Regions from separate parts of the Homo sapiens genome. Here all the other regions are linked to region 1. Evidence: fine-mapped expression QTL. A gene starts in region 1. Each other region holds a variant in brackets. All regions are shown on one strand. Distances are from middle to middle.

Evidence for each region. PIP is the estimated chance that this variant, and not a neighbour inherited with it, causes the effect. A credible set is the group of variants that fine-mapping cannot tell apart.
Region 2: its variant is the best candidate, but not a certain one, in a credible set for the expression of GOLGA3 in whole blood (INTERVAL, PIP 0.84).
Region 3: its variant is the best candidate, but not a certain one, in a credible set for the expression of GOLGA3 in whole blood (INTERVAL, PIP 0.62).
Region 4: its variant is the best candidate, but not a certain one, in a credible set for the expression of GOLGA3 in atrial appendage (GTEx, PIP 0.77).
Region 5: its variant is the best candidate, but not a certain one, in a credible set for the expression of GOLGA3 in whole blood (INTERVAL, PIP 0.54).

What each region holds. Positions count from the first base shown.
Region 1 is chr12:132,825,779-132,832,094 of GRCh38, forward strand. GOLGA3 (golgin A3) reads right to left here and starts at 3,091. Exons shown (of 24, transcript NM_001389683.1): 1 at 3,025-3,091. It also overlaps the pseudogene RPS11P5. RefSeq lists silencers at 2,369-2,468, 2,969-3,028, 3,399-3,608 and an enhancer at 3,179-3,318.
Region 2 is chr12:132,668,343-132,672,342 of GRCh38, forward strand. It overlaps POLE (DNA polymerase epsilon, catalytic subunit), which reads right to left. Exons shown (of 49, transcript NM_006231.4): 16 at 3,873-3,980; 17 at 469-597; 18 at 293-395; 19 at 14-160. Among named protein-coding and RNA genes, the nearest start is that of POLE, 17 kb to the right of the region's middle. The variant C/CA (reference allele first, on the strand shown) is at 1,874.
Region 3 is chr12:132,904,839-132,911,154 of GRCh38, forward strand. LOC124903065 (a long non-coding RNA gene) reads left to right here and starts at 3,830. Exons shown (of 2, transcript XR_007063553.1): 1 at 3,830-4,310; 2 at 6,156-6,316. RefSeq lists a silencer at 3,554-3,603. The variant A/G (reference allele first, on the strand shown) is at 2,642.
Region 4 is chr12:132,777,189-132,783,504 of GRCh38, forward strand. It overlaps GOLGA3 (golgin A3), which reads right to left. Exons shown (of 24, transcript NM_001389683.1): 17 at 5,108-5,305; 18 at 3,610-3,726; 19 at 478-617. Among named protein-coding and RNA genes, the nearest start is that of ANKLE2, 19 kb to the left of the region's middle. The variant C/T (reference allele first, on the strand shown) is at 2,032.
Region 5 is chr12:132,857,909-132,864,224 of GRCh38, forward strand. It overlaps CHFR (checkpoint with forkhead and ring finger domains), which reads right to left. Exons shown (of 18, transcript NM_001161346.2): 7 at 3,559-3,726; 8 at 1,160-1,319. Among named protein-coding and RNA genes, the nearest start is that of CHFR, 27 kb to the right of the region's middle. The variant A/C (reference allele first, on the strand shown) is at 3,487.

The sequences.
Region 1 (6,316 bases):
GAAACTGGCAAGGAGAAGCTCCTGCGGTACTACAAGAACATTGGTCTGGGCTTCAAGACACCCAAAGAGGCTACTGAGGGCACCTACATTGACAAGAAATGCCCCTTCACTGGTGATGTCTCCATTCGAGGGCGGATCCTCTCTGGCGTGGTGACCAAGATGAAGACGCAGAGGACCACTGTCATCCGCCGAGACTACCTGCACTACATCCGCAAGTACAACCACTTCGAGAAGCACCACAAGAACATGTCTGTACACCTGTTCCCCTGCTTCAGGGACGTCCAGATCGGTGACATCGTCACAGTGGGCGAGTGCCGGCCTTGCCGGCCTCTGAGCAAGACAGTGCACCTCAACGTGCTCCAGGTCACCAAGGCTGCCAGCACCAAGAAGCAGTTCCAGAAGTTCTGAGGCTGGACATCAGCCCGCTCCCCACAATGAAATAAAGTTATTTTCTCATTCTCCAAAAAAAAAAAAAAAAAAGAAACTGGAAGAGCAGCATCACGGCCACGGCCCAGACAGGCACCACCACCTGAACAGAAGGAAGGATGGGATGACCAGCAGGACTGGACTCAGCCATTACAGGTGGAACATGCAGAGGAGAACTGCTGCAGAGGAGAACTGCTGCAGAGGCCCACAGTGACGACGCCTGGGCCTTACACTGACCAAGAAGGAACACAGCCAAAGACGCTCAGGTTCCACCGAGAGGGCACGCCAACATGGTGACAGCCAACCGCACCGAGCTGAGTCCAGTGCAATCACAGATTCTGCTCACTTAATTCCCCTGCTGGTGTCCAAGCAGCCCACCTCTCCAGAACAGAGACCCCATGACGGTGACTGTAAGTCACAAAGACGGCCCCTCTTTACAGGCAGCTCCTCCTGAAGCCGGACCAGAGAGAGAATTCACTAACTGCCTGGAGTTTGGTGACAGTGATACTTCTCCCTGTAGGGCAATAAGCTGGCAGTCTCGGTCGATTCCCAGTCTTGCTTGATTTTTAGTTAAAATTTGGAATGACTCAGTCGTCAGGGCCTCATTACCTCAGACTACTGACAAAAAGCGATCTCCGGGCAGCGAGGAGGAGGAGCAACTGCCAGTGCATCACAGAAAGCTGGTACTACAAACATGGCTCTATTTTAAATAAAGAGGCCAGTCTAATCAGTCTCACTTATGATCACTCGCACTCCTGCGTCTCTAGAGAGAAGAGACAGGACAAAGCTGTCACTTAGAACTGCGAAAGGTACACACAACCCTAGGTTCACAGCTGGGTAACATCAAGGGACTTCATACTGAGAAACCACCACCTCAGGCACCTACAGGACTTTCTGCTTCCCCCACACCTGAATTCTGTATACAAACATTCACGGCTCCATCTACACCACCTCGTTTCACCTGTTCCTATCGGGTATTAGAAACAACAGAGCACAGCCAAAAACCAAACACGATTTCCTCAGGAAAAGAGTACCTGGTGGAGGCCACACTAGTATCCAAAAGTAAACACAGATCTATACACAAAGTGAAAACCAAAAGCAAGCAAGCCTCATGTCACTGCAGAGACGTGAAGGGCAGGCTTGGAAGTCAGGACTCCGGCCTCAGCTCCCGACCCTCCACCACTTACCTGTGAGAGCCTGGGCTAAAGATTTCTTAATCACATTTAGCCTGTTTCCTCACCAGTAAAACAATGAGAAAATGAACGCAAAATTTTGCCAGGATTAAATATAACAAGGCACAGAGTCTGTCCCGTGTCCTCAATAAAATGACAGTAATTATCACGATTTTCCCTTTAGTTGTTGCTTGTCAAAATCGCTAAAAGCCAACTGAAGGCATTCTCACTTGGGAAAGTATGCTACTTCTTAAGGCAATCGGGGGAAAAAAAGCTCCTCTTCAATCTGAGTGATGTCAGATGATTTATTTCCTTCTTGCCATTTAAGGTATACTGCCTGAAAAGATATTAAAGGGTTATAAAGCGCTATGTTGATGTCGTTTAAAAGACAGTTCAAAATAATCCACGACGACGGGTGTGGCTGCTCACACCTGTAACACCAGCACTTTGGGAGGCTGGGGTGGGAGGATCGCTTGAGGCCAGGAGTTCCACACCAGCCTGGGCAATACAGCAACACACCCAGTCTCTTAAAAAAAAAAAAAAAATCCATGAGTCATCTGTAAATGGCTTACACTGGCCCAGTGACAATAAACTCCAACCTCTTAAGAATCCAGCACCTGCCTACACCAACATCCTTACCGCCATCGCTTTCCCCCTTTGCCATTACACTGTGGCCACATCCTCCGCCCTCAGGGTCTTCAAACTTTCTGCCTGAGGCGCGCTTTTCTCACAATTTTGCCTGGCTTGCTTCTCGTCATAGAGGCCTTAGCACGGAAGTCGCCCGCCCCCCAGGCTCCCACTTAGAGTAGCGGACCCCACCCAACCACCGCCCGGTACCCTCTCGCTGGCGACCCTGGGTGTCCCTGTCCTAGGTGGGCTCCGCGGGGGCAGTGACCCAGACCCACAATACCCAGGACCCGCCACACGACTGACATTCGTCGGGTTCATACCCGTGACAACGCCCGGCCCCACTCGCTCTGGCCACCTGGAATGAAGACAAGTCGGCCAGCGACAAAGACAAACAAGGAAGTACACGGACTCCTGAAACCCCGACTTCCCACGAACCACCCGACACCATGTCACGCCTTTCAGCTGCAAAGGGCCAGGCTAAAGCAAGCACTGCCCGAGTGGTGGCAGTGGACAGCTTCGGGACAGGCCGCGCTCGTCGGGCGCAGACAAGCATTCAGGAGGGCTCGCGGGCACCGGCATTTACAGAGCCAGCTCCGCCGCAGCTGAAGGCGGGCGCCCAGGCCCGAGGCCACCGCAGCGAGGCGGGGGTGACTGGAACGGGGCCGTCCCGCCACGCTGCAGGGACGCGCCCAGGCCCCGCCGCCGCCCCTCGAGCCTCCCCCGCCCATGCACTGCGGGAGCGGGAGCGGGAGCGGGAGCCCGAGCCCCGAGGCGCCGCGGCCTCCGAGCCCCTCACCCTGCTGCTCTGGCAGCCCCGGAGGCCGCCCGGCCCGGATGCTCCGGCGGAGACGTGGCCGTGAGAGGGGCGGGGCGAGCGGTGCATCGGCCTCGGGTCCCCGGAAACAGCCTGCACGCGCTACTTTCGTTCCGGAACAGAGAACGTCCTCCTCTTCTTCAAGTGGCCACCCTAGGGCCGGGGACCCTCTGCCCACAGGGTCCGGATCGAGCTCACCTCCGACTGTGATGAGGCCGCCTTCAGAAAGTGACCTTAAGAGTTTGCGGACCTTTCCCTAGTAGAAACGCAACTTCCGGAACTGCAGGACCAACTCTTTCAGGAAGCTGAACCGAGCTTCCGGCGGAAGTGGCGTGGCCGGGGCTCGGCATGGGCGCGGCCGAGCTCGGTGTGGGCGTGACTTCCCCGCCCGCCCTAGTCGGGTCCCCGCCCCAACCCCGCACCTCCACCCGGCCGGCGCCCTTCGCGCTTCAGGTGCCAGATCAAAGGCGACGCTGCTTTGGACCCTATTTGCTTCCCCTTTAAAAAGGGCAAAGCTGGACGGCGCGGGCCGCTGGCCGCTGGGGAACGGCTTTCCACCTTCCCTCATCCGCCAGGCCGCTCTTCCAGCTGTCAGGAAGGAAATGGCCTGGAGGGCGCCTCGGGGTCCTCTGTGATGTTGCGCTCATCTCTGCGGATTTTGGAATACGCTTCAGTCTACGAAGTTTTCTGGGATTTTGATGGGAACTGCTGCAGATCGTTTGGGGAGCACGGGCATCGCTGACTCGGTCCTTCATCTGCGTCCCTGGTGGCCCCTCCATTTATTTCGGTCTTTTGATTTCTTCCACCAGCATTTTGTAATTTCAGCATACAGATTCTGCACCTTTTAAGTTTATAGTATTTCACATCAAACAACTGTAACACTGCGTTTTTGACGTTTTCCACGTGTTCACTGTTGGTCTACACAAATGTGATGAATTCTATGTTGATTTTCTTATCCTGAGACCTCGCTGAACTCATTAGTTTGAGGGTTCATTTGGTGTTTTGCGGTTGTTGTTGTAAAATCCTTGTATTTTTTACATGGGCCATCATGTTATCTGCAAATGCAAATTCTAACACAAAATGATCAGACTGAGGCGTAAAATATACAACTTTTAGAAGAAAACAGAATTTCTCACATCTAGAGCTTGGGGAAGAGTTCTTAGATCTGACCAAAAAAACACAATTCACAAAAGAAGTTGATAGAGTAAACTTCATGAAAAAATTAGAAACTTTTCACCGGATGCGGTGGCTCACGCCTGTAATCCCAACACTTTGGGAGGCCAAGGTGGGCGGATTACCTGAGGTCAGGAGTTTGAGACCAGCCAGGCCAAATGGTGAAACCCATCTCTACTAAAAATATAATAATTAGCCGGGCATGGTGGCATGTGCCTGTAATCCCAGCTACTCAGGAGGCTGGAGGAGAATCGCTTGAATCCAGGAGGCGGAGAGGTTGCAGTGAGCGGAGATCGTGCCACCAGCCTGGGCAACAGAGCAAGACTCCGTCTCAAAAAAAAAAAAAAAAGCCGGGCACAGTGTCTCACGCCTGTAATTCCAGCACCTTGAGAGGCCGAGGCAGGTGGATCACAAGGTCAAGAGATCAAGACTATCCTGGCCAACATGGTGAACCCTGTCTCTATGAAAAATACAAAAAAATTAGCTGGGCGTGGTGGTGTGTGCCTGTAGTCCCAACTACTCGGGAGGCTGAGGCAGGGGGATCACTTGAACCTGGGAGGCAGAGGTTGCAGTGAGCTGAGATCGTGCCACTGCACTCCAGCCTGGGCGACAGAGCGAGACTCCATCTCAAAACAAACAAACCAACCTTGTGAGAAAGACCACATTAAGAGGATGAAAAGATGAGTTACAGACTGTGAGAAAATATTTTCAAACCACGTTTGTTGAAGGACTAGTAGCTAGAATATATAAAGAACTCTCAAAACTTGACAGTAAAAAAAAATACAATTATTCTGGGCACAATGGCTCATGCCTGTAATCTCAGCACTTTGGGAGGCTAAGGGGGCAAATCACTTGAGGCCAGGAGTTTGAGACCAGCCTGGCCAACATGGAGAAACCCTGTCTCTACTAAAAATACAAAAATTAGCCAGGCGTGGTGACGCACACCTGTAATGCCAGCTATTTGGGTGGCTGAGGCACAAGAATTGCTTGAATCTGGGAGGCGGAGGTTGCAGTGAGCTGAGATTGTGTCACTGCACTCCAACCTGGGTGACAAAATGAGACTCCATCTCAAAAAAAAAAAAACCATACACACACACAAACAGAAGACAAGCAAAAAACATGAAAACACATTTCACTAAAAGGATATATGAGTGGCAAATAAGCTTGTGACCAGGTTCAGCATCACTAGCCATTACAGAAATGCACATTAAGACTATCTTGAGGTCAGGCGCGGTGGCTCAAGCCTGTAATTCCAGCACTTTGAGAGGCCGAAGCAGGTGGATCACCTGAGGTCAGGAGTTCGAGACCAGCCTGACTAACATGGTGAAATCCTGCTTCTACTAAAAATACAAAAATTAGCTGGGCATGGTGGCAGGTACCTGTAATACCAACTACTTGGGAGGCTGAGGCAGGAGAATCGCTTGAACCTGGGAGGTGGAGGCTGCAGTGAGCTGGGATCACACCATTGCACTCCAGCCTGGGTGACACAGTCAGACTCTGTCTCAAAAAAAAAAAAAAAAAAAGACTGCCTTGGGATATTAGTATACACCTATTAGAACAGCTGAAATAATATACAGCAGTGGCAATATGAAATGCTGGGAATAATGTATTCTGGAGTAACTAATCTCTTATACATTGCTGATGGGAACAGCAATAGTGCACCCACTCTGGAATATAGTTGGGCAGTTTCTTCAAAAAGTAAACAATTTTATGACCCAGCAACTGCATTCCTAGACATTGAACTCAGAGAAATAAACTTATGTCTACACAAAAGCCTGTACATTACTGACCCCAAACTGGAAACAACCAAAATGTCCTCTGACATGGTGAAACAAACCATGGACCCCCCACGCCACTCTGACATGGTGAAACAAACCGTGGACCACCCACGCCACTCTGACGTGGCAAAACAAACTGTGGACCACCCACGCCACTCTGACGTGGTGAAACAAACCATGGACCACCCATGCCACTCTGACGTGGTGAAACAAACCGTGGACCACCCATGCCATGGACACTACTCAGCAATAAAAAGGAGCTGACCACTGATGTGTGCAATAACTTGGACGAAGCTCCAAGGCATTACATCCAGGGAGGAAAA
Region 2 (4,000 bases), 160 kb before region 1:
CCCAGGCACTCACCCGCCAGCCTTCTCTTCTCGTATTTCGCCTGTTCCTCGCGGGACAGTTCATGAAAGGCCCGAGCTGGCCCCTCTGGGAACAAGGGGGGGAACTTCTCTGACTCCAGCTGGTGCTGGATCCGATGGTATTCGCTGCGACTGGCTGGCACTGGGAAGGAGGCAATGGGGGCAAGTTCAAAAGGAGGCACAGACACACCGGCTTCCCACCAAGTGGAGAAAGGCGGCCGACACTCACCCACCCGTTTCCCACCGAGTGCCCACCCAGGCGGCCGACACTCACTGAACTCGCCCCTCCACTGCCAGGCCATCTTCCGCTGGCAGTTTGCTCCAGGCTTATTGAAGTCACAGGCAGCACAGGTGGCTTCGTCCACCATGGCAGAGGGCTGGGAGGGGTGAGAAAGCACTTAGGGCTGGGCAGAGAGAGCTCCGACTCTGACACGGGAAGTAAAGTCTCACCTGCAGGCGGTTGGTCAGGATGATGTTGGGGTACATGGCCCCCACGTCCAGGTGGTAGATGAGTGGACACTCGATGCGGCTGGGAACGTCCTTCAGGGAGGCAAGCTTGCTCTTAATCTCATCACACACCTGCAGAGAAAGCGAAACTCAGTAGAGGCTGGTGACCAAGCTTGCCTCGTGTGCAGTTCACCAACCCCTTTTAGACATTCAGGAGAGGAAAAAGCTGAAAAATATATAAATAGAGCAAAAACTAGCCAGAAGAAAAAAGTTAAGAAGGGTTGCCATCATTTCTATGAAATACATTAAATTTGGTGGAGTCATTAGAAAATTACTTGAACACTAAACTCTCCTTAGTATTAAAAAAAATCCTTAGGCCAGGTGCAGTGGTTCATGCTTGTAATCCTAGCACTTTCGGAGACCGAGGCCAGAGGATCACTTGAGCCCAGGAGTTCGAGACCAGCCTGAGCAACACAGTGGGACCCCCGTCTCTATAAAAAATAAAAAATTAGCCGTGTGTGGCGGTGGCACCTGTAGTCCCAGCTACTCGGAACGCTGGGGTGGAAGAATCGCTTGAGCCCGTGAGGTCAAGGCTGTAGTGAGCCCAGATTGCACCACTGCACTCCAGCCTGGGCAACAGAGCCAGATCCTGTTTCAGAAAAAAAAAAAGAAAAAGAAAAATCCTTAAAACCCTCCAAAGTAGTAAAAATAGAAAACACACCTAAAATTTTAAGAAAAAAGTGATTACAAGGAATAACATCTATTCCATAGAACAGGAAATACCACAACAGTAACACCTATTGTTTCTACTTGAATTACAGATAAACGAATCAGCCGGGGAAGAGCCTCCACTGCACCCTTCTCTGCCCAGTAACGGCGTGTTCTGAAAGGCTGTCCAGTCAAGAAGGGGAGGATGGGCTGGGACAAGTGAATGGCCAAGTTTCCATGGTGGGGACACCACCTGGACATGCCCCACGTGGCTGTGAGCCCCTGCTGACATCCCCCCAGCCACCCTCCGCCCAACAGGTGACCCTTCAGGGACACAAAGGCGATCCTGGGCTTCCCTTTCAAGGGCACTTGCGAGGACTTAGGAATCGCTAACAGGACAATGTCATCTACAGAGCTCCCTTCCTCACTCACCAGGGAGCCTGGCGTCCTCACATCTACAGAGCTCTCTTCCTCACTCACCAGGGAGCCTGGCATCCTCACATCTACCACACCTCCAGCCTCACTCTACCTGCCCATCTCACTGTTTCTTAAAGACTTTAAATATCTGCTTCTAGGTCGGGCGCGGTGGCTCACGCCTGTAATCCCAGCACTTTGGGAGGCCAAGCGGGCAGATCAGCTGAGGTCGGGAGTTCGAGACCAGCCTGGCCAACATGGAGAAACCCTGTCTCTACTAAAAATA[C/CA]AAAAAAAAAATTACCCAGGCGTGGTGGCAAGCGCCTGTTATCCCAGCTACTCAGGAGGCTGAGGCAGGAGAATCTCTTGAACCCAGGAGGCAGAGGTTGTGGTGAGCCGAGATCATGCCATTGCACTCCAGCCTGGGCAACAAGAGTGAAACTCTGTCTCAGATTCTGAGACGTCTCGCCACCACGCCTGGGTAATTTTTTTTTGTATTTTTAGTAGAGACGGGGTTTCTCCATGTTGGCCAGGCTGGTCTCAAACTCCTGACCTCAGGTGATCCACCCGCCTCAGCCTCCCAAAATGCTGGGATTCCAGGCTGCCCAGGCTGGAGTGTAGTGGAGCGATCTCGGCTCACTGCAAGCTCCGCCTCCCGGGTTCTTGCTATTCTCCTGCCTCAGCCTCCCGAGTAGCTGGGACTACAGGTGCCCGCCACCACGCCCGGCTAATTTTTTTATATTTTTTTAGTAGAGACGGGGTTTCACCGTGTTAGCCAGGATGGTCTCAATCTCCTGACCTCGTGATCCACCTCGGCCTCCCAAAGTGCTGGAATTACAGGCGTGAGCCACCGTGCCCGGCCATGGCCGACATTCTTTAACTCCTATTTGTTATTCAGACAAGGCTCTCTTCCTGATCGGTTCATAAGAGTTCCCTGAAGTATAATAATGGATGTGGCTGACAATAGCCAAACAGTGCTTCACAGCTTGCCAAGAGTGTACACATATTCTTGTTTAAATTTTGACTAGTGAATCTATTACAAGATGTTTCTTGAGGGCAGGCACAGTGGCTCACACCTGTAATCCCAGCACTTTGGGAGGCTGAGGTGGGCAGATCACTTACAGTCAGGAGTTCGAAAGCAGCCTGGCCAACGTGGTGAAACCTCATCTCTACTAAAAATACAAAAATTGGCCAGGCATGGTGGTGGGCACCTGTAATCCCAGCTACTCAGGAGGCTGAGACAGGAGAATCGCTTGAACCCAGGAGGCAAAGGTTGCAGTAAGCCGAGATCATGCCATTGCACTCCAGTGTGGGTGACAGAGCAAGACTCCGTCTCAAAAAAAAAAAAAAAAAAAAAAAAAGTTTCTTGGCATCAATGTGAAAACTGTTAAAAACTCTAAACCAGCAACCTCACTGAACATGATGTAGTGCTGCACAGTGCCTGACATAAAGACCTGAGATAGGCCAGGCGCGGTGCCTCACACCTGTAATCCCAGCACTTTGGGAGGCCAAGGCAGGCGGATCACAAGGTCAGGAGTTCAAGATCAGACTGGACAACATGGTGAAACCCTGTCTCTACTAAAAATACAAAAACTAGCCAGGTGTGGTGGCGGATGCCTGTAATCCCAGCTACTGGGGAGCCTGAGGCAGGAGAATTGCTTGAACCCGGGAGGCAGAGGTTGCAGTGAGCCAAACTCATGCCATTGCACTCCAGCCCAGGCCAACAACAGCGAGACTCCATCTCAAAAAGGGAAAAAAAAAAAAAAAAAAAAAAAAGACCTGAGATGTGCCATGTCCTGAGGAACAGGGATCAGAGAAGAACTGGTGTCTCCCTCTCCAGTCACATAACACACTTTGTAAGTGTGCTTTCTAACCATTATGTAAACAGATTTTACAGTCACTAATCCTGTCATTTGTAGGAATTTACTGTCATTTTTAAGTCTCAACAACAAAAAGTAAATAAAATTTAAAACCTCCAATGGCTCCCCAGTGCCTATAAAATAAAGTCCTAATGCTTTAAAACAGGACACGGGATACATCCCACCAGGACCCACCTTCCATGTTACTGCATTTCAGGAGCAGCTCACACCCCACCTCTCATGAAGCCCTCCGACCTTGTGACAGCATCACACGTCACAACCATGACTGCCCTGTCCCACCAGAGACCCTGTGTCATCCGTCCACAGCACCACACGCAGCAGGTGCACAATAAACGTGCTGCTGAAAGACGTGGTCTGTGAAGAAGGCGCCAAACACAGACTGGCTCTTCCTGCCTCCCTGATGGTTACCTCTTCAAAGTTGGTGACTTGCTCCACAGGCACTTTCTCCTCTTCCTCAAGGGCGTGGCGCAAGGTCTTCTCAACCCGCTGCAGCAGGAAGTCAAAGGCGGCAGGATTCTAGCACAACAGTGAGACGA
Region 3 (6,316 bases), 79 kb after region 1:
GGTGGCTTCTCAGGAAGCCAAGCTCCCTCACCCTGTGGCGACGCCGCGGGCGGAATGCGCATGCGCGCCACGAGCCACAATCGTAGGGTTGGGCGCGCCCTGCCGGCCACCAGGGGCAGCGCAGGAGCTGAGCGCACCCCATCAGCGAAAGAAGCGCGCCTCCCCGCTCTTTTCTGAACCGTATCTCCTAAACTATAATTTTGGAGATCAAAAGTGCGGTGGAGCCTCCTCTTCTGTGGCTTGATAGGAGTGGGGGAGGTAACAAGAAGCAAAAGTACAAAGCCAATATATTAAAGTCAACTGAAACTGGAAAACTTTAAAGGCCTACCGTTTGCAATAAAACAACAAAAAGAAATCCTTGGATACAACAAATCCAAGAAATCCTTGCTCTAACAAAATATGAAACCATCTGTATCCAGAAAACTATGAAACACTATTAAAAGAAAACGTAGGCCGGCGCAGTGGCTCACACCTGTAATCCCAGCACTCCGGAAGGTCCGGAGCACAGAGGGCTCGCCTGAGGTCAGGAGTCCAGAGGAGCCTGGGAAATATGGCCAAGCCCTGTCGTTACTAAAAATACAAAAATTAGACTGGCTTGGTGGTGTGCGGCTGTAGTCCCGGCTACTCGGGAGGCTGAGATGGAAGGATGGCTTGAGCCCTGGAGAGGGAGGTTGCAGTGAGCCATGATGGGGCCACTGCACTCCAGCCGGGGGAACAGAGGGAGACTCTATCTTAAGGGAGGGAGGGAGGGAAGGAAGGAAGGAAAGGAGGGACGGAAAAGAAAGAGAGAGAAAGAGAGAAAAAAAAGGAAAACATAACCGGAGCATACTCCTTTTTCATTATTGTAGTCACAATATTGCTAAGATGTCAATTCTTCCCAACTGTAGAGTTGGTGCCGCTCCGACAAAAATCCCCGCAATTAATTTCGTAGATGTTGACAAACTGTTTGTAAACCTAGAATTGTAAATACAACCCTGAATAATAATGAACTTGAAGAACTCAACTTCCAAATCCAAAACTTCTAAAAGCTACCAAAAGAGCACTATCTTTGCAAAAGAATGGGCATTCTTTCACATGAACAATATCATTTTATCTTATTTTTAATTTTTTTTCAGGGTGTTGCTGTCACCCAGGCTGGAGTGCACTGGCACCATTATAGCTCACTGAAGCCTCGAATTCCTAGGATCAAGGGATCCTCCCACCTCAGCCTCCTGAGTAGCTGTTACTATAGGTGCCACCACGCCTGGCTGGAACAATATCATTTAAACTAAGCTTACATAGAATGTATTAATAATACAATCACAGGCAAGGACCCTTGCTTCAAACGTGTTAGGAAGCTGCAGAATTGAGGCCAGCCAAAACAGAGAGATTAAATCACATACATTTCTAGCTTTAATTTTCTTCCTATTTTCGCAGATCATGATTTTCATAATGATAATACATGAAGTGGTCCTTATAATAAGTAGATTCTATAGAGATGTGTATTGTATCAGCAGATGTCCGGTGTAGAATGCCACTTCCATCACAGCTTCTGAACACACAATGCTATCTACAATCGATTAAAAAATATATTTCAAAAGCCAGTTTCCCCAATATAACTAACTTCAGCATTCACTGATGTACTGAAAACTTATATTTGCCAATAATAGATTTTAGGGTAATTCATATTAAGATAGGATGGTTTTTAATATTATTTGAGGATAGACAGGAAATTTTAGTTGAGCAGGTTCTATTTTGTTTGAGTGGATCCATTAAAAAGATTGTTATTATTGCCGAGTGTGGTGGCTCGTGCCTCTAATCCCAGCACTCTGCGAGGCTGAGGCGGGAGGATGGCTTGAGCCCAGGCGTTTGAGACCAGCCTGGGCAACCTAGGCAGACCTCATCTCCAATAAAAATACAAAAATCAGCCTGACGCAGTGGCACGTGCCTGTAGTCTCAGCTACTTGGGAGGCTAAGGCGGGAGGACCACTTGAGCCCAGGAGTTCGAGGCTGAAGTGAGCTATGATGGCACCACTGCACTCCAGATGAGGCGACAGAGACTCTCCCTCTAATAAATAAATCAATACATCAATGAAAAATTTTAAAAAGATTATTTGTTGACTGTCAGGGTGATTTATTCTTCTAATAAATAGAATATTTACTTACAATTATATATCTTCTCATTAATACTCCAGTTCTGGTTACAAACTGGTAAAAATTGAGATAAAATCATAAAACTAACCAGGAAAACATTGACCTGCTAAAAACATAGAATCAGTGAAACTACTCAGGAAATACTTGCTATGACAGATTACTCTCTCTGTTAAAGGGTCCCATGTAGAGACATTTCTATGAATATTGAACAGTTAACAAAAAACTGAGACTGGGGGAGTGACAGACAATTCAGATTACAAAGCAAAAGCAACATAGGATTCAGATAAATACGATACCATGGTGAAACAAAATCTTTAAAGCACAAATGGTTTTGAATGTAGAAGCTCATATTTCACTAACTATTCACTGATGCGTAGTCCACTTTTCAGCAGTGATCTCCAATCAGTCCCTCCTTTCACAGAAGCCAGCGCAGGAGGCGCACGCGTCGCTTCCCGCCCCGCACTTCACCGCCCCAGCCCGTCCTGGCTGCCACCCGCCGTCCCTGAGA[A/G]ACGCTCAGACGCTTCTCTCTCTCTTTTTAAAATTATACTTTAAGTTCTGGGGTACATGTGCAGAACCTGCAGGTTTGTTACATAGGTATACACGTGCCATGGTGGTTTGCTGCACCCATCAACCAGTTATCTACATTACGTATTTCTCCTGATGCTATCCCTCCCCTGGCCCCCCACCCCCGACAGGCCCCGGTGTGTGATGTTCTCCTCCCATTGTCCATGGTTTTTATTTTATTATTATTTTTTGAGACGGAGTCTCGCTCTATCGCCCATGCTGGAGTGCAGTGGCACCATCTCGGGTTCAAGCGATTCTCCTGCCTCAGCCTCCTGAGTAGCTGGGATTACAGGCATGCGCCGCCACGCCCGGCTATTTTTTTTTTTTTTTTTTTTTTTTTTTTTTTTTGTATTTTTAGTAGAGACGAGGTTTCACCATGTTGGCCAGTCTGGTCTCGAACTCCTGACCTCGTGATTCGCCCGCCTCGGCCTCCCAAAGTGTTGGGATTACAGGCGGGAGCCGCCGCGCCCGGCCTCAGACGTTTTTCTCTAGGTAAAGCCGCGGGATGAACCAGCCCCTGTGGAAATTTAGAAGTAACGACGTCCGTCAATTTCTGTATGAAAAATATACAGATCGTGTGACACGTCTTCTGGGAATGAAAGTCTGCTAAACTCGCCGTCACGAGTAGATGAACACATTTAAAGTTTGTAGTTAAGAGGAAAACAACGCCAACGACACAAATGCCCCAAGCGCTGGATGAAGCAGCGACCTAGGATGGGGCTGGCCTGGAACGGGAACCAAGACGCCCGCCCGGACGAAAACGAGCAGGGAAACCCGGGCCGGGGTCGGCCGCCCCACACGACGCACTGCGCAGAGACCACGCGGCTCCGGGTCTCGCCTGCGCCGGCGCATCCCTCGCAGACGCGCTCCTCCCACGCGAGGGCCCCTTCCCCGAAGCGCACGCCTAAGACTGCGCGCCGCAGCCCGCCCTGTCTAGCTGAGGCGCAGACCCGGATGGGTCCCAGAGGGGCGGGTCGGGGCGGAGAGCCGCGCCCAAAGGCAATGGGAGCCGCACGCTGCTAGGCAACATGCTGTCTCCCGGCAACGTAGAGGCGGGGAATTCGCCAACGTGTCTGAAACAGACAACAATTTTAGCCAACGGCTGCGTGGGCCTTGGGCGTCCTGGCCAATGGGAATAGTGAGGGGCCTGTCACTAAGAAACCTGTCCCTGAGCAACGCATAGGAGGGGTGGAACCCAGCAGCGCTGACTGAGCCGCCGCGAAGTGCCGGAACGTATTACCTGGGAGCCAAATTTCAGAGCGTCGTTTGTCTTCCCAAGCCCACCAGCTTTCAGCGTTCTCCAGCCTCGCCACACCCCCGCCTCGGGCCGTCCCCGCCCAGACGCTTGTCCCCGCGAGAAGCTGAGCGCACTGAAGTGAGCCCGGCGGCTGCCGCCGGAGGAGGAGCCCGGCTCTGGACACGGCCGTCAGGAAGCTCAGAGGCTGCAGCACCGCTTCTGCGTTGATTTCCGCTTGACTTTTACTCTTTTCTTGGGTTAAAAATCAAACGCCGACCCGAGGCGTCAGAGATGGGCGGTCGTTAGGCGCAGTGGCGGCCCCCGGATGTTTGCGATGGGACGGCGGGCTCGGAACGTGTGGACGTGGGCTTTGGAGGTGCGAGCCCCATTGGGCCAGGGCTGGGTCCGGGCAGTGGTACGGGGTCTCAGCTGTCCGTCACAGGAGATGTGCAGGCCTCGTCATCTGGGGTCTTACGTGTCAGTGATGTGGGGTCTGCCGGGTCAGTGAGGGGGTCTGTGAGGTCACTAGTGGGAGGCCACTCCCAAAGTGATTCCCCTCTGTCCCACCTGCTTCCCTGAGAAAAGCTCACTTATCCTTCACCAGGATTTAAAAATATATATCCTAAGACCAACCTGTAATATTTTTTTCTTTTTTGGAGACAGGGTCTCTTTCTGTCACCCAGGCTGGAGTGCAGTGCCACAATCTCATTGCAACCTCTGCCTCCTGGGCTCAGGCAATCCTCCCACTTCAGCCTCCCGAGTAGCTGGGACTACAAGTGTGTGTCACCACACTCAGCTAATTTTTAAATTTTTTATAGAGACGAGGTCTCACTCTATTGCCCAGACTGGTCTCAAGCGAGCCTCCTGCCTTAGCCTCCCAAAGTGCTGGGATTACAGGCATGAGCCACCGCGCCCACCCAATATTCTCTTTTTCATGGACCTTGTTTAGTTGCACTAAAAAAAAATTAATATATTTTATTTTTGTTTAGAGCGTGTTGGGTTTACAGAAAAATCAACTGGAAAGAACAAGGAGTTCCCCCCATCCCTTTCTACCTTAGTGTTCCCCTTATGTTCTACCATAGTGTTTCCCCTATATTTACGTTTCATATTACTCTGGTACATTTGTTACAACTGATACACCAATATTAATATATTATTATTAACTGAAGTTTATAGTTTACTTTTTTTTTTTTTTTGAGTCGGAGTCCCGCTCTGTTGCCCAGGCTGGAGTGCAATGGCACGATCTCGGCTCACTGAAACCTCTGCCTCCCGGGTTGAAGCAATTCTCTTGCCTCAGCCTCCCAAGTAGCTGGGATGATAGGTGCCCGCCATCACGCCCGGCTAATTTTTGTATTTTTAGTAGAGACGGGGTTTCACCATATTGGCCAGGCTGGTCTCTTGGCCCGGCTGGTCTTGAACTCCTGACCTTGTGATCCACCCGTCTCAGCCTCCCAAAGTGCTGGGATTACAGGCGTGAGCCACCACGCCTGGCCCTTTTTTTTTTTTTTCCTGACGGAGTCTTGCTCTTGTTGCCCAGGCTGGAGTGCAATGGCGCGATCTCGGCCCCATGCAACCTCCACCTCCCGCGTTCAAGTGATTCTTCTGCCTCAGCCTCCCAAGTAGCTGGGATTACAGGCATGTGCCACCACGCCTGGCCACAAGTTTTAAATTTTAATGAAGTTCAACTTATCAGTTTTTTGTTTCACAGATTGTACTTTTGGTATGGTATCTGAGAAAATATCACTAAACCCAGGATCACCTAGATTTTCTTCTGTGCTGTCTTCCAGGAGTTGTATAGTTTTGCATTTCACATTCAGGTCTTTGATCCATTTTGAGTTAGTTTCTGTGAAAGGTATAAGGTCTTTGTCTAGATTCACATTTTTGCCTGTGGATGTCCAGTTTTTCCAGCACCATTTGCTAAAAAGACTATCCTTTCTCCATTGCATTGCCCTTGCTCCTTTGTCAAACATCAGTTGACTATATTTGTGTGGCGCTGCTTCTGGGCTCTTTATTCTGCCCCACTGACCTCTTTGTCCATTCTTCTGCCAGTATCAGAGTGTCTCCATTACTATCGCTTTATAGGAAATTTTGAAGTTGGGTAGTGTCAGCTCCCCAACATTGCTCTTCTCCTTCAATACTGTGTTGACTATTCTGGGTCTATTTCTAATCTAGCAATGGAAGTTTTGCATTTCATTAGTCTTTATTTATTTATTTATTTCAGACAGCGTCTCACCCTGTCGCCCAGGCTGGAGTGCAACGGCACAATCTCGGCTCACTGCAACCTCCACCTCCAGGGTTCAAGCAATTCCCCTGCCTCAGCTTCCCAAGTAGCTGGGATTACAGGCACACACCACCACACCTGGCTAATTTTTTGCATCTTTG
Region 4 (6,316 bases), 49 kb before region 1:
GCAGGCCCTCTGCTGTGCACTGCGTGCTGCAGCCATGCTTGGTGCCCACAGTGTGCACTCGGGCAGTCCTCACGAAGCACCTGAGACTCACACTTCACTGGCACCCCTCACAGATCCCAGAGACTCACTTTGCCGGCACCCCTCACAGATCCCAGAGAGTGCCGGCCCCGAGACCACAGTGCATGGGACCCACAGAGCCACAGCATCAGCCCCGCGCCGGGCCGCCCCTTCCCGCCTCTGACCTGAAGCTAAGTACTCCTGCTGGGGCGCTTTCTCTCTTGGGGGGAGGACACGGGGCAGTGAGTGAGGCTCAGGATTCTGGAGACGGAGGCTGGGTGCCTTCTACTCCTATGATTCACTCAAGTACTCGGCAATTTGCAAAATATAGATGACCCTCGCTGTGCTGAAGGTGTGAATTAGACCCCGCCCATTGCCAGGACAGCCATGTTTGAGGGCTGGCGGGGCCCAGGCACTCACTGAAGGTCGTCGGCCTCGGCCTGCAGCTTCTGCACCAGGTGTTCCTTGGCCTGCAGCTCCTTCTTCACCTCACTCAGCTCCAAGGAGGCCGCCTTGAAGTGGCGGCGGTTATGCCCGGCTTCCACCTTGGCAGCAGCCACCTAGGAGGAAGGAAGCCACGTTGTCCATGCCCTGCGTGACACCCACAGCTTTATGACGTGCCGGGCGCAGGGGGTGAATGCACTCCCGGCCCCGTGCATGTCCTGGCTGCCGGCGTGTGCTTCTCCACAGGCCTGTCAAGTTCCTTGTAAAGATGAAACCACCTGACCCGGAGCTCGGCACGCAGCAAGTGCACACTTATGTGGCTGCTGCTATCTGTTGAATGAACACATTTATTCGAGATTTCTCGGTCTAAATAGTTTTTATAGTCTTCTTCCAGTGTATTCACAGCCTGGACAACATAGCAAGACCCTGTCTCCACAAAAAATAAAAAAATTAGCAGGGCATGGTGGTCCCAGGTACTCAGGAGGCTGAGGTGGAAGGATCACTTGAGCTCAGGAGTTCCAGGCTGCAGGGGAGCTGTGATCGCGCCACTGCACTCCAGCTGGGGTGACAGAGTGAGACCCGGTCCCAAAAATGAAATAAATAGGCCAGGCGTGGCGGCTCACGCCTGTAATCCCAGCACTGTGGGAGGCCGAGGCGGGTGGATCACGAGGTCAGATCGAGACTATCCTGGCTAACACGGGGAAACCCCGTCTCTACTAAAAATACAAAAAATTAGCCAGGCGTGGTGGCGGGCACCTGTAGTCCCAGCTACTCAGGAGGCTGAGGCAGGAGAATGGCGTGAACCCGGGAGGTGGAGCTTGCAGTGAGCCGAGATCGCGCCACTGCACTCCGGCCTGGGCGACAGAGCGAGACTCCATCTCAAAATCTCAAAAAAATAAACAAATAAATAAATAAAAATAATAAAATAAAATAAATACATTTAAAAAATAAAAATAAAATTAATTGGAAGGCCAAGGCGGGCAGGTCATCAGGTCAGGAGATTGAGACCATCCTGGCTAATATGGTGAAACCCCATCTCTACTAAAATACAAAAAATTAGCCAGGCATGGTGGTGCACGCCTGTAGTTCCAGCTACTGGGGAGGCTGAGGCAGGAGAATCACTTGAACCCGGGAGGCAGAGGTTACAGTGAACCAAGATTAAGCCACTGCACTCCAGCCTGGTGACAAAGTGAGACTCCGTCTGAAAAAAAAAAAACCGAAAAAAATTCAGTGAACCCTAAGCACGGAGCGAAAGCTGGAGAGCTGGGGCACCGTGTGAGCCAGCCTGAACCACGGCCCAGCAGCAGGCCCCAGGCCAGGGTTAAACGGCCGGGCGGATGAGGCCTGTGGGGCCAAGAGAAAGCTGTTAACTGCTCCTGTTAAAATATTCCAGCCACATTTTTTTTTTGAGACGGAGTTTCCCACTTGTTGCCCAGGCTGGAGTGCAATGGTGTGATCTTGGCTCACCACAACCTCCGCCTCCTGGTTCAAGCGATTCTCCTGCCTCAGCCTCCCGAGTAGCTGGGACTA[C/T]AGGCATGTGCCACCACGCCAGGCTAATTTTGTATTCATAGTAGAGACAGGGTTTCTCCATGTTGGTCAGCCTGGTCTTGAACTCCCGACCTCAGGTGATCTGCCTGCCTCAGCCTCCCAAAGTGCTGGGATTACAGGCATGAGCCACCGCGCCCAGCCACCTGCCACATCTTAAAATTAATTCTATTTATAAAGAAACTTTGTTGTTTCACCCCTTAAAAAAAATCAAGAACCTTTTTCTTTTCATCTCAATTACATTATCATAGAAAAGTTCTTAAAGGTTGTGGCAAAGCCAGGTCATAGGAACGAAAGCAGCTTCACTGTTAGGCCGAAAAGTTTGAATTGTGAAGCAATTACTTTTTTACAAGTTCAATTCAAACGGGATTTAAAGGAAAAGTGATGTGTTCTTTCCTGCCTTTCTCTAGAGACAACCAGTTATTTCTTGTGTTCCTCCTAGAAATTTTCTACATATACATCAGCATCAAATGCATGCACACACACCACAGCCCAGGCACACACGTGCGCACACACACCACAGCCCTTGCATGGACACCCCCCCCGTGCACATACACACACCCCAGGCACACACGTGTGTGCACACACACCACAGCCCTTGCACGGACACCCCCCCGCGCACATACACACACCTCAGGCACACACGTGTGTACAGACATCACAACTCTTGCACGCACAGCCCCCCGCATGCACACAACCCAGGCACACACGCGTATACAGACATCACAACCCTTCCACGCACAGCCCGCGTGCACACACACCCCAGGCACACACGTGCGCACACACACCACAGCCCTTGCACGGACACCCCCCCGCGCACATACACACACACACCCCAGGCACACGTGTGTGCAGACATCACACTTGCACGCACAGCCCCCCGCGTGCACACACCCCAGGCACACGTGTGTACAGACATCACAACACTTGCATGCACAGCCCCCCGCGTGCACACACACCACACCCCAGGCACACGTGCACGCACACCCCCCATGTGCACACACACGGCAAGCGTACTAGGAGTAGCTGCTCTGTGCCAGGTATGGCGGAGGTAGCCAGCAAGCAGCAGCGTTCTAACAGAGGAGCAGGGCCCAGACAGGGCACCTGGGGGTCAGGATGGGCCTCTGCTGGCGACGTGACCAACGTGTCAGTGAACACCTGAAGCAGGGCAGGGGCCAGCCACGAAAAGACAGCTCTCTACACAGAGAAGGGTCCACAGAACCACCCCTCTTATCTGCCGAACACAAATGGGATCATATGCTATTCTCAAGTTTGCTTTTGCAATGCAACACGACATACAGGACACCACTCCCAGCACAATATAAATACACATGCACGCGGAGCTCATTGGCCCCAGGCCCTCACAGCTGCACTGCCATTTAATCTAACGCCACCTTCTACGGACCAGAGCAGGTGCTCTGCGGCCTCCGTCACCAACAACTGCAACACACCTTTGCTCTGTGTAACTGCTGGAAGGAGGCTGGTGTGTGAAGGACCCTGCATAGATTTCTAGGCACTGGAGCGTCCTCTGGAACGCCCTGTGAGACGGAAGGTGGCACGCACCTGCTCCTTGAGGCTGTTCACCTTCTCCTTCTCCTTCTCTAGTGAGGCCTGCAGGGCCTGGACAAGATGCTTCATCTGGCGATCCTCCTCTTCTTTGCGCTGCAAAACTGCCTGCACCTAGATCAGATTGCAGGAGGACAGATAAGGAAGGACGTCGAATTACAAACACACAAGGCTGCTACAGCAGGCAACGTGACACACGCCACATCACAGGCACACGCCAGGGAGGTAGAGGGAACTTCACTGCTGAAGAATCTGTGACAAAAACAGAATCCTAGGTTGCGGGAGCATGATCACAGGGCCGCACTCAAGAACGTGGCACGCCTGTGGGCCCCACGGCTCCAGAGGCCAGGGCAGGAGGATCGCTGGAGCCCAGGAGGTTGAGGATGCAGTGAGCTATGATGGTACCACCGCAGTGCCCTCCACCGCACTGCCCTCCACTCCGGGCAAGAGCCAGACCCTGTCTCAAAAAAAAAAGAATGGGCCGGGCGCGGTGGCTCACACCTGTAATCCCAGCACTTTGGGAGGCCGAGGCAGGCGGATGACAGTCAGAAAATCGAGACCATCCTGGCTAACACAGTGAAACCTTGTCTCTACTAAAAATATGAAAAATTAGCTGGGCGCGGTGGTGCACGCCTGTAGTCCCAGCTATACCAGAGGCTGAGGCAGGAGAATCGCTTGAACCCGGGAGGCAGGGAGCCGCGATCGTGCCACTGCACTCCAGCCTGAGAGACAGAGTGAGACTCCGTATTACTAACAACAACAACAACAAAAAAATGGAACATGGTGGCTGGGAACTCAAAAACTACATACAAATCAGGGGCTGCAGCCGGGTACAAAAAGAACAGAAGTGGTGGGAACTAGGGCAAAATATGGAACTAAGATGGGATAGTCAACACCAGCAGCTCGATTTGGCCCCCAGGATTTCCCTGAAATGCCCAGCCTAGTCCTCAATTCAGAGAGGCTGTGGAGACTAAGTAGCTGAGTGAGAACCAGGTCAGGGTTCAAGTCCCAGTTCTGAATTGTGTGAACCTCTTGTTAAGTGCCCCCTACAAACAATGTCACCGTCTGGGACTGGAACTCAGCCACACCCACATGGAAGGTCTACCCCTCAACTAAGCAGGTCTGCCCCCCAACTAAGCAGGTCTGCCCCCCGACTAAGCAGGTCTGCCCCTCAACTAAACAGGTGAACTGAGCACACGCAGGGGCTCCAGCCTCACCTCAGAGAGCCCAGCCCTGCACCAACAGCTGGGGACTCAGGGCTGTGGGTCACCCAGACCCCTGAGCCTGTTCCTCCCCTCGGAGAGCCCAGCCCTGCACCAACAGCTGGGGACCCAGGGCCGTGGGTCACCCGGACTCCTGAGCCTGTTCTCTCGGCTGCAGGCCGGGTGGGCTAGGAGTCAGCACAGGTGACTGAATCTGGATGAGATTCTCGGAGTGCGCACAGCCCCACCAACTCTCACACCGTTGCTGGCGTGAGTTTGACGAGTTTGAATACCTGAAGGTTCAACTGGACTAGGTCTGCCTCCCTCTTGGCCAAAGCTGTTTCTAGGATGCTGTTGTGTTCCCGCAGAGCTGCGTTGGACTGACCGAGGCCCGTAAGCTTCCCTTTCTCGTGCTCTAATTCAAGAGCCAACTTCTTGTTTGACTCCTCAAGGCGTTTTATCTTCTTCCTAAAGCCTCTGGATTCTTGAAGCTGAAACATACCAATGTCACTGTAAAATTACCTGCACTGGTGAGTGGAGTTCACATACCCCAGAAACAGGTGAGTTTTCAACAAGAAACAGCGAAAACTTAGGCCAGGCGCAGAGGCTCACGCCTGTAATCACAGCACATTGGGAGGCCGAGGCAGGGGGATCACCTGAGGTCAGGAGTTTGAGACCAGCCTGGCCAACATGGTGAAACCCCGTCCCTACTGAAAATACAAAAATTAGCCACTATCGTGGCACATGCCTTTAGTCCCAGCTACTCAGGAGGCTGAGGCAGAAGGATCGCTTGAACCCAGGAGGTGGAGGTTGCAGTGAGCTGAGATTGTGCCCCTGCACTCCAGCCTGGGCAACACAGCGAGACTCTGTCTCAAAAAAAAAAAAAAAAAGAAAAAGAAAAGAAAAGAAACATCGAAAACTAAAACACAGCAATGGGCTGGACGCAGTGACTCACACCTGTAATCCCAGCACTTTGGGAGGTCAGGGGTTTGAGACCAGCCTAGCCAACATGATGAAACCCTGTCTCTACCAAAACTACAGAAATTATCCAGGTGTGGTGGCGATCACCTGTAGTTCCAGCTACTCAGGAGAATGAGGCGGGAAAATCACTTGAACCTGGGAAGTGGAGGCTGTGGTGAGCCAAGATTGTGCACTCCAGCCTGAATGACAGAGTGAGACTCTGTCTCAAGACAACAAAAACAAAGAACAATGGACACCACACAACCCTGCGATGGACACCACAGGACCGTGCTTGCTTCATGATCTGAAGGCTGTCGTGGTCATGGTCAGTTGCTTCCCCAGGCCCCTCTCATTCCTCCCCATGGCCAAGAGCCCAGCCTTCTCCTGGGGCCATGGGCTTCTGGAGAAGTCTGTCCAGGCACTGAGCCCTGGCTAGGCCACTCAGCAGGGTGGGCATGAGCAAAACCACTTCAGGGCAGGACACAGCCAGAGAGTGGAACAGGCGGCCCTACTGTGACGGAGCTCCACAGGGAGGGGCTGGG
Region 5 (6,316 bases), 32 kb after region 1:
CTTCCCAGATAAGGAGCATTTAAAATGTGCAGAGTTCCTTTCATCTGTTTGCAGAGTTCACGGGGTCACACACGACCCACACACTCAAAACTTGTGGGGTCTACAGCCTCCGGCTCTGGGTTCCAGGTTTCCTCCTTGTTGGTGCCACGAGTAGAATGAAAGTGGTAGCCATGCGGGGTGGCTCACGTCTGTAATCCCAACACTTTGGGAGGCCAAGGTGGGCAGATTACCTGAGTGCAGGAGTTCGAGACCAGCCTGGCTAATATGGTGAAACTCCCGTCTCTACTAAAAATACAAAAAAATTAGCCAGATGTGGTGACGCATGCCTGTAGTCCCAGCTACTTGGGAGGCTGAGGCAGGAGAATCACTTGAACCTGGGAGGTGGAGGTTGCAGTGAGCCAAGATCACACCACTACACTCCAGCCTGGGTGACAGAGCGAGACTCTAACTCCAAAAAACAAAAACAAAAACAAAAAACCACCCCGGGCTACATGGCGAAACCGTCTCTACAAAAAACACAAAAATCAGCAGGGTGGCTGGGAGTAGTGGCTCACGCCTATAATCCCAGCACTTTAGGAGGCAAACGTGGGCAGATCACCTGAAGTCAGGAGTTCAAGACTAGCCTGGCCAACATGGTGAAACCCTGTCTCTACTAAAAAATACAAAAAAATTAGCCGGGCATGGTGGCACACGCCTGCAGTCCCAGCTGCTCAGGAAGCTGAGGTAGGAGAATCGTCTGAACCCGGGAGGCTGAGGTTGTAGTGAGCCAAGACTGTGCCACTGCACTCCAGCCTGGTGACAGAGCGAGACTCCATCTAAAAAAAAAAAAAAAAAAAAAAAAAAAAAGGAATAAAAAATATTTAGAACATTAAAAAAAAAAAAAAAGTCAGCCAGGCATAGTGGTGTGCACCTGTAGTCCCAGCAACTCAGAAGGCTGAGGTCAGAGAACCGCTCAATCCTGGGAGGGAGAGGTTGCAGTGGGCTGAGAAAGCTCCACCCACTCCACCCACTCCACCCACTTATCTGGGTGACAGAGTAACCTCAGCAGATGCCAGGCCAAACAGGACCTGCAGGCTTGTCTCATGCCCAGCCCTGCCCCACACGGGACGAAGAACCTGCAGTGCCATGTTCCGTGAGCCAAGGGTGAACACGGTCGCACCTCACGCAGTCGTGCAGCAGGTCCTGGCAGATGATGCATGTCAGCGTCTCCTCCATCTTGTCTGGCTTCCCAGCCGCTGCTCTGACGTCCTCGTGGACGGTTTGGGCATTTCTACGCGGTTGTGCGACCAACAACTGCCCGTTCAGGTCAAGGTCCCCATCTACAGGAGAAAGGGATGTGTTCTGTCGTAACCAAGAAGGAAATACACGCAGGTTCAGGTCAAGGTCCCCGTCCACAGGAGAAAGGGATGTGTTCTAACTGTCGTAACCGAGAAGGAAATACATGCAGTCTTTTTTTTTTCGAGACAGAGTCTCGCTCTGTCGCCCAGGCTGGAGTGCAGTGGCGCGATCTCGGCTCACTGCAAGCTCCGCCTCCCGGGTTCATGCCATTCTCCTTCCTCAGCCTCCTGAGTAGCTGGGACTACAGGTGCCCACCACCACGCCCGGCTAATTTTGTGTATTTTTAGTAGAGACAGGGTTTCACCGTGTTAGCCAGGATGGTCTCAATCTCCTGACCTCGTGATCCACCCGCCTCGGCCTCCCAAAGTACTAGGGTAACAGGTGTGAGCTACCGCGCCCCACCCTCTTCTGGTGTTTTTATTTTTCTATAATGCTCAGATGTTGGTAATCAATTAATTTTTATTTTTAATTAAAGAAACTGTACACAATTTAAAAAGCCAAGTATTTAGAAGAAGCCAGGTGCAATGGCTCACAACTGTAATCCCAGCACTTTGGGAGGCTGAGGTGGGCAGATCGCTTGAGCCCAGGAGTTCAAGACCAGTCTGGGCAATATAATGAAACCCCATCTCTAAAAAAATGGGAAAAAAAATTAGCCAGCTATGGTAGCGTGCACCTGTGGTCTCAGCTACTCGGAAGGCTGAGGTGGGAGGACAGTCTGAGCCCAGGAGGTGGAGGCTGCAGTGAGCCAAGACTGCACCACGGCGCTCTGGCCTAGGTGACAAAGCAAGATCCTGTCTCTTAAAAAAATGTATACATAATATATTTAGAAGAAAACAAAGGCAGTCACCCTCCGTCTCAGCCGCTCCTCACCCAATTTCCCTCCTCGGAGGAAAACTATTTTCATGTCTTTGAGCTGTTTCTTCTGGTATTTACCTCTGTGTTTCTAAGTTATCATGGTACATTTGATTTATCAATTTTAGACATCATTCCTGACATCTATTAAGGTAGAGAAAAACTCTGTCCTGAGACACCCCTGCCAACATTACATTAACAGATTACATTAGTTCATGATACTGTATTTGTATTATTATGCTTATGCAAGTATTCACTGCTGAGCCAAGTAGTTTACTAGATTAAGTTGTGTGACTTACACAATTTTTCATGTTTGCTAGAATTAAAATTTCCTCATTCCTGTGCTTATTTTTCCTGTGTAACTGTTGCTGACTCTTTCCACACCTTCCCCACACCGATCAACCCCACGTGTCAGATAACCTAATTTCTTTCCCTGGGGACCCCTCCTAGAACCTTCCTGTCACAGTGCCCCAGTGGCTGGCTGCTCTCTGGACTGCTATACAGCAATGCTTCTACCATAACATTCCCAAATGTTTTCTAATAATCTTAACTTTGGCTTTCAAAGTGCAGACTTCTCCCTAAATCATCTTCAATGTGAAGATTTAAGCTACATTTTTAGAAATTATTGTCCTACCAGGACAGAGGGCTTTCTTTTTGATTTTCTTTTTTTTGAGATGGAGTTTTGTTCTTGTTGCCCCGGCTGCAGTGCAATGGCACAGTCTTGGCTCACTGCAACCTCCACCTGCCGGGTTCAAGCAATTCTCCTGCCTCAGCCTTCCAAGTAGCTGGGATTACAGGCATGCACCACCACACCCAGCTAATTTTTGCATTTTTAGTAGAGACGGAGTTTCACCATGTTGGCCAGGCTGGTCTTGAACTCCTGACCTCAGATGATCCGTCCACCTTGGCCTCCCAAAGTGCTGAGATTATAGGCGGGAGCCACGGTGTCAGGCTTGATTTTTATTTTTAGAGATAAAGTCTTGCTCTGTCGCCCAGGCTGGTCTCGAACGCCTGACCTCAAGTGATTCTCCTGCCTTGGCCTCCCAGTGTTAGGATTACGGATATGAACTACTGCACCTGGCCAGGAAGGAGGATTTTGAGATTAATTCTGCAATTCAGAATGCACTATTTCCAGACCAAGAGAACAGCCTGTAGCAAATCACAGTTCTATCTGGATTATGCAAACCGCAAAAAAACAGGCCCAGGTTTTCTGAATGAAAATGCCGGAGGTGTTACAGGCATCAACCTGAGGCAGGGTCCACATGCCCCTGCAGGAAGCAATGCCCCACAGCACGG[A/C]GCATGGCAGCGGCCCCCGCATGCCCCAGGAGCACACGAGAGGACTGAGGACACACACAACCAGACACTAACCTCCTCTCATTTTCTTCTTCACGGGCTCCAAATCCTCCTGATCCTGGGGTTCCAACGACGAAAAGGACGCAGTCTTTCTGTCTGGGAGAGCTGAGGCAAAGCTGGAGACTTCATCACTTGCCACAGAGGGACCACTTCCTTTAGGGGAGATGCCACCACCCCCAGACCCTGTGAGAGGAATCAAACAAGATAGGTGCTGATCCATCCAGCTCAGGAGAGAACCATGCCTGTAAGGTGTCACTGACTGGAGCCCAGTGCAGCTGGCAGCCTGAGATGTCGTAGTTTAGGAATGACAAGTGGCTTACGAGGAGTGTGTGCTCACTCAACTCACATCTTAACTCTATTTGTGCCTATCTCTACGTGGGGTGGAGCTGGGGGCAAGGAGCCCATTTGCAGAGAAACAAATGCGGAGATGTCTGTGACCAGGCTTAGCCCTCGAGCACCGAGTCTAACGCAGGGCAAACCCACATACCCGTGGTCATATGATACACACTGTGTCATAAACTTGTTACAACAGAGCTTTGGGCCGGGTGCGGTGGCTCACACCCGTAATCCCAGCACGTTGGGAGGCCGAAGCAAGTGGATCACCTGAGGTCAGGAGGTCGAGACCAGCCTGGCCAACATGGTGAAACCCCATCTCTACTAAAAATACAAAAAAATTAGACAGGCGTGGTGGCGAGTGCATGTAGTCCCAGCTACTCAAGAGGCTGAGGCAGAAAAATTGCTTGAACCCGGGAGGCGGAGGTTGCAGTGAGCCAAGATCGTGCCACTGCACTCCAGCCTGGGCAACAAGAGCGAAACTCCCTCTGGGGAAAAAAAAATAAAAATAAAAAATAGAGGTCTGAGGCTGGGCATGGGGCTCACACCTGTAATCACAATACTTTGGGAGGCCAAGGTGGGAGGATCACTTGATCCCAGGAGTTTTAGACCAGCCTGGGCAACACAGCAAGGCACCATCTCTACAAAAAATACAAAAAAGAAAAAAAAATTAACTAGGCGTGACAGTACGAGCATATGGTCCCAGCTACTCAGGAGGCTGAGGTGAGTGGATCACTTGAGCCCGGGAGTTCGAGGCTACAGTGAGCCATGACCACATCACTCTCCCAACCTGCACAACAGAGCAAGACCTCATTTTTTTTTTTGAGACGGACTCTTGCTCTGTTGCCCAGGCTGGAGTGCAGTGGCTCACTGCAAGCTCCGCCTCCTGGGTTGACGCCATTCTCCTGCCTCAGCCTCCCAAGTAGCTGGGACTACAGGCACCCGCCACCATACCCAGCTAATTTTTTTGTATTTTTAGTAGAGACAGGGTTTCACCGTGTTAGCCAGGATGGTCTCGATCTCCTGACCTCATGATCCACCTGCCTCAGCCTCCCAAAGTGCTGGGATTAAAGGCATGAGCCACTGTGCCTGGCCAAGACCTCATTTCTTTTGTTTTCTTTTTCTTTTTTGAGACAGAGTCTCACTCTGTCACCCAGGCTGGAGTGCAGTGGCGTGATCTTGGCTCACTGCAAGCTCTGCCTCCCTGGTTCACGCCATTCTCCTGCCTCAGCCTCCTGAGTAGCTGGGACTACAGGTGCCCGCCACCACGCCCGGCTAATTTTTTGTATTTTTAGTAGAGACAGGGTTTCACCGTGTTAGCCAGGATGGTCTCGATCTCCTGACCTCGTGATCCACCCACCTCGGCCTCCCAAAGTGCTGGGATTACAGGCGTGAGCCACCGCGCCCGGCCTGACCTCATTTCTTAAAAAAAAAAAAAAAATGCCAGGCGCGGTGGCTCATGCCTGTAATCCCAGAACTTCAGGAGGCCAAGGTGGGTGGATCATCTGAGGTCAGGAGTTCGAGACCAGCCTGACCAACACAGTGAAACCCCATTTCTACTAAAAATACAAAATTGGCCGGGTGTGGTGGCACATGCCTGTAACCCAGCTACTTGGGAGGCTGAGGCAGGAGAACTGCTTGAACCCAGGAGGCGGAGTTGCAGCGAACGAAGTTCGCGCCATTGCACTCCAGCCTGGGCAGTAAGATCAAAATTCCGTCTCAAAAAAACAAAGTAAAACAAAACAAACAAACAAAAAAAAACAGAAGTCTGTGTAAAGCACAGATGCTCCAGTGGAGGGATGCATAGCTTCCAACGGGTGGAGATGGTGCTGCGTGTGAACTATTTTACAAGAGGTGTGATAACGGGAAGGATACAGCACAGTGACTTGTAGGGAGAGCGCTATCTCCACGAGCAAGAAGCCAGAGTCATAACGACAGGAATGACCTTGGCAGAAAAACAGGCAGACTTTCTAATCACCTCTATCTTTTTTTTGAGACAGGGTCTCACTCTTCACCCAGGCTGGAATGCAGTGGCGAGATCTTCATTCACTGCAACCTCTGCCTCCTGGGCTAAAGCGATCCTTCCACCTCTGCCTCCTGAGTATCTGGGACTACAGGTGTGCACCACCATGCCCAGCTAAATTGTTTTTTGTATTTTTGGTAGAGACAGGGTCTTGCCATTTTACCCAGGCTGGTCTCAAACTCTTGAGCCCAAACAATCCACCCACCTCGGCCTCCCCAAGTGCTGGAATTACAGGTGTGAATAAGGATTACAGGTGTGAATAAGGATTACAGGTGTGAATAACCTATATCTTAATAAAGACTTAGTTTATCATATTACAGCATAATACATATCTAGCTTACAGTATTCAAATGTAAGTGTTATTATTTGAAAAAAAAAAACACAAGAAACTGGCTTACAGCAGCTGAAAGAAAACAG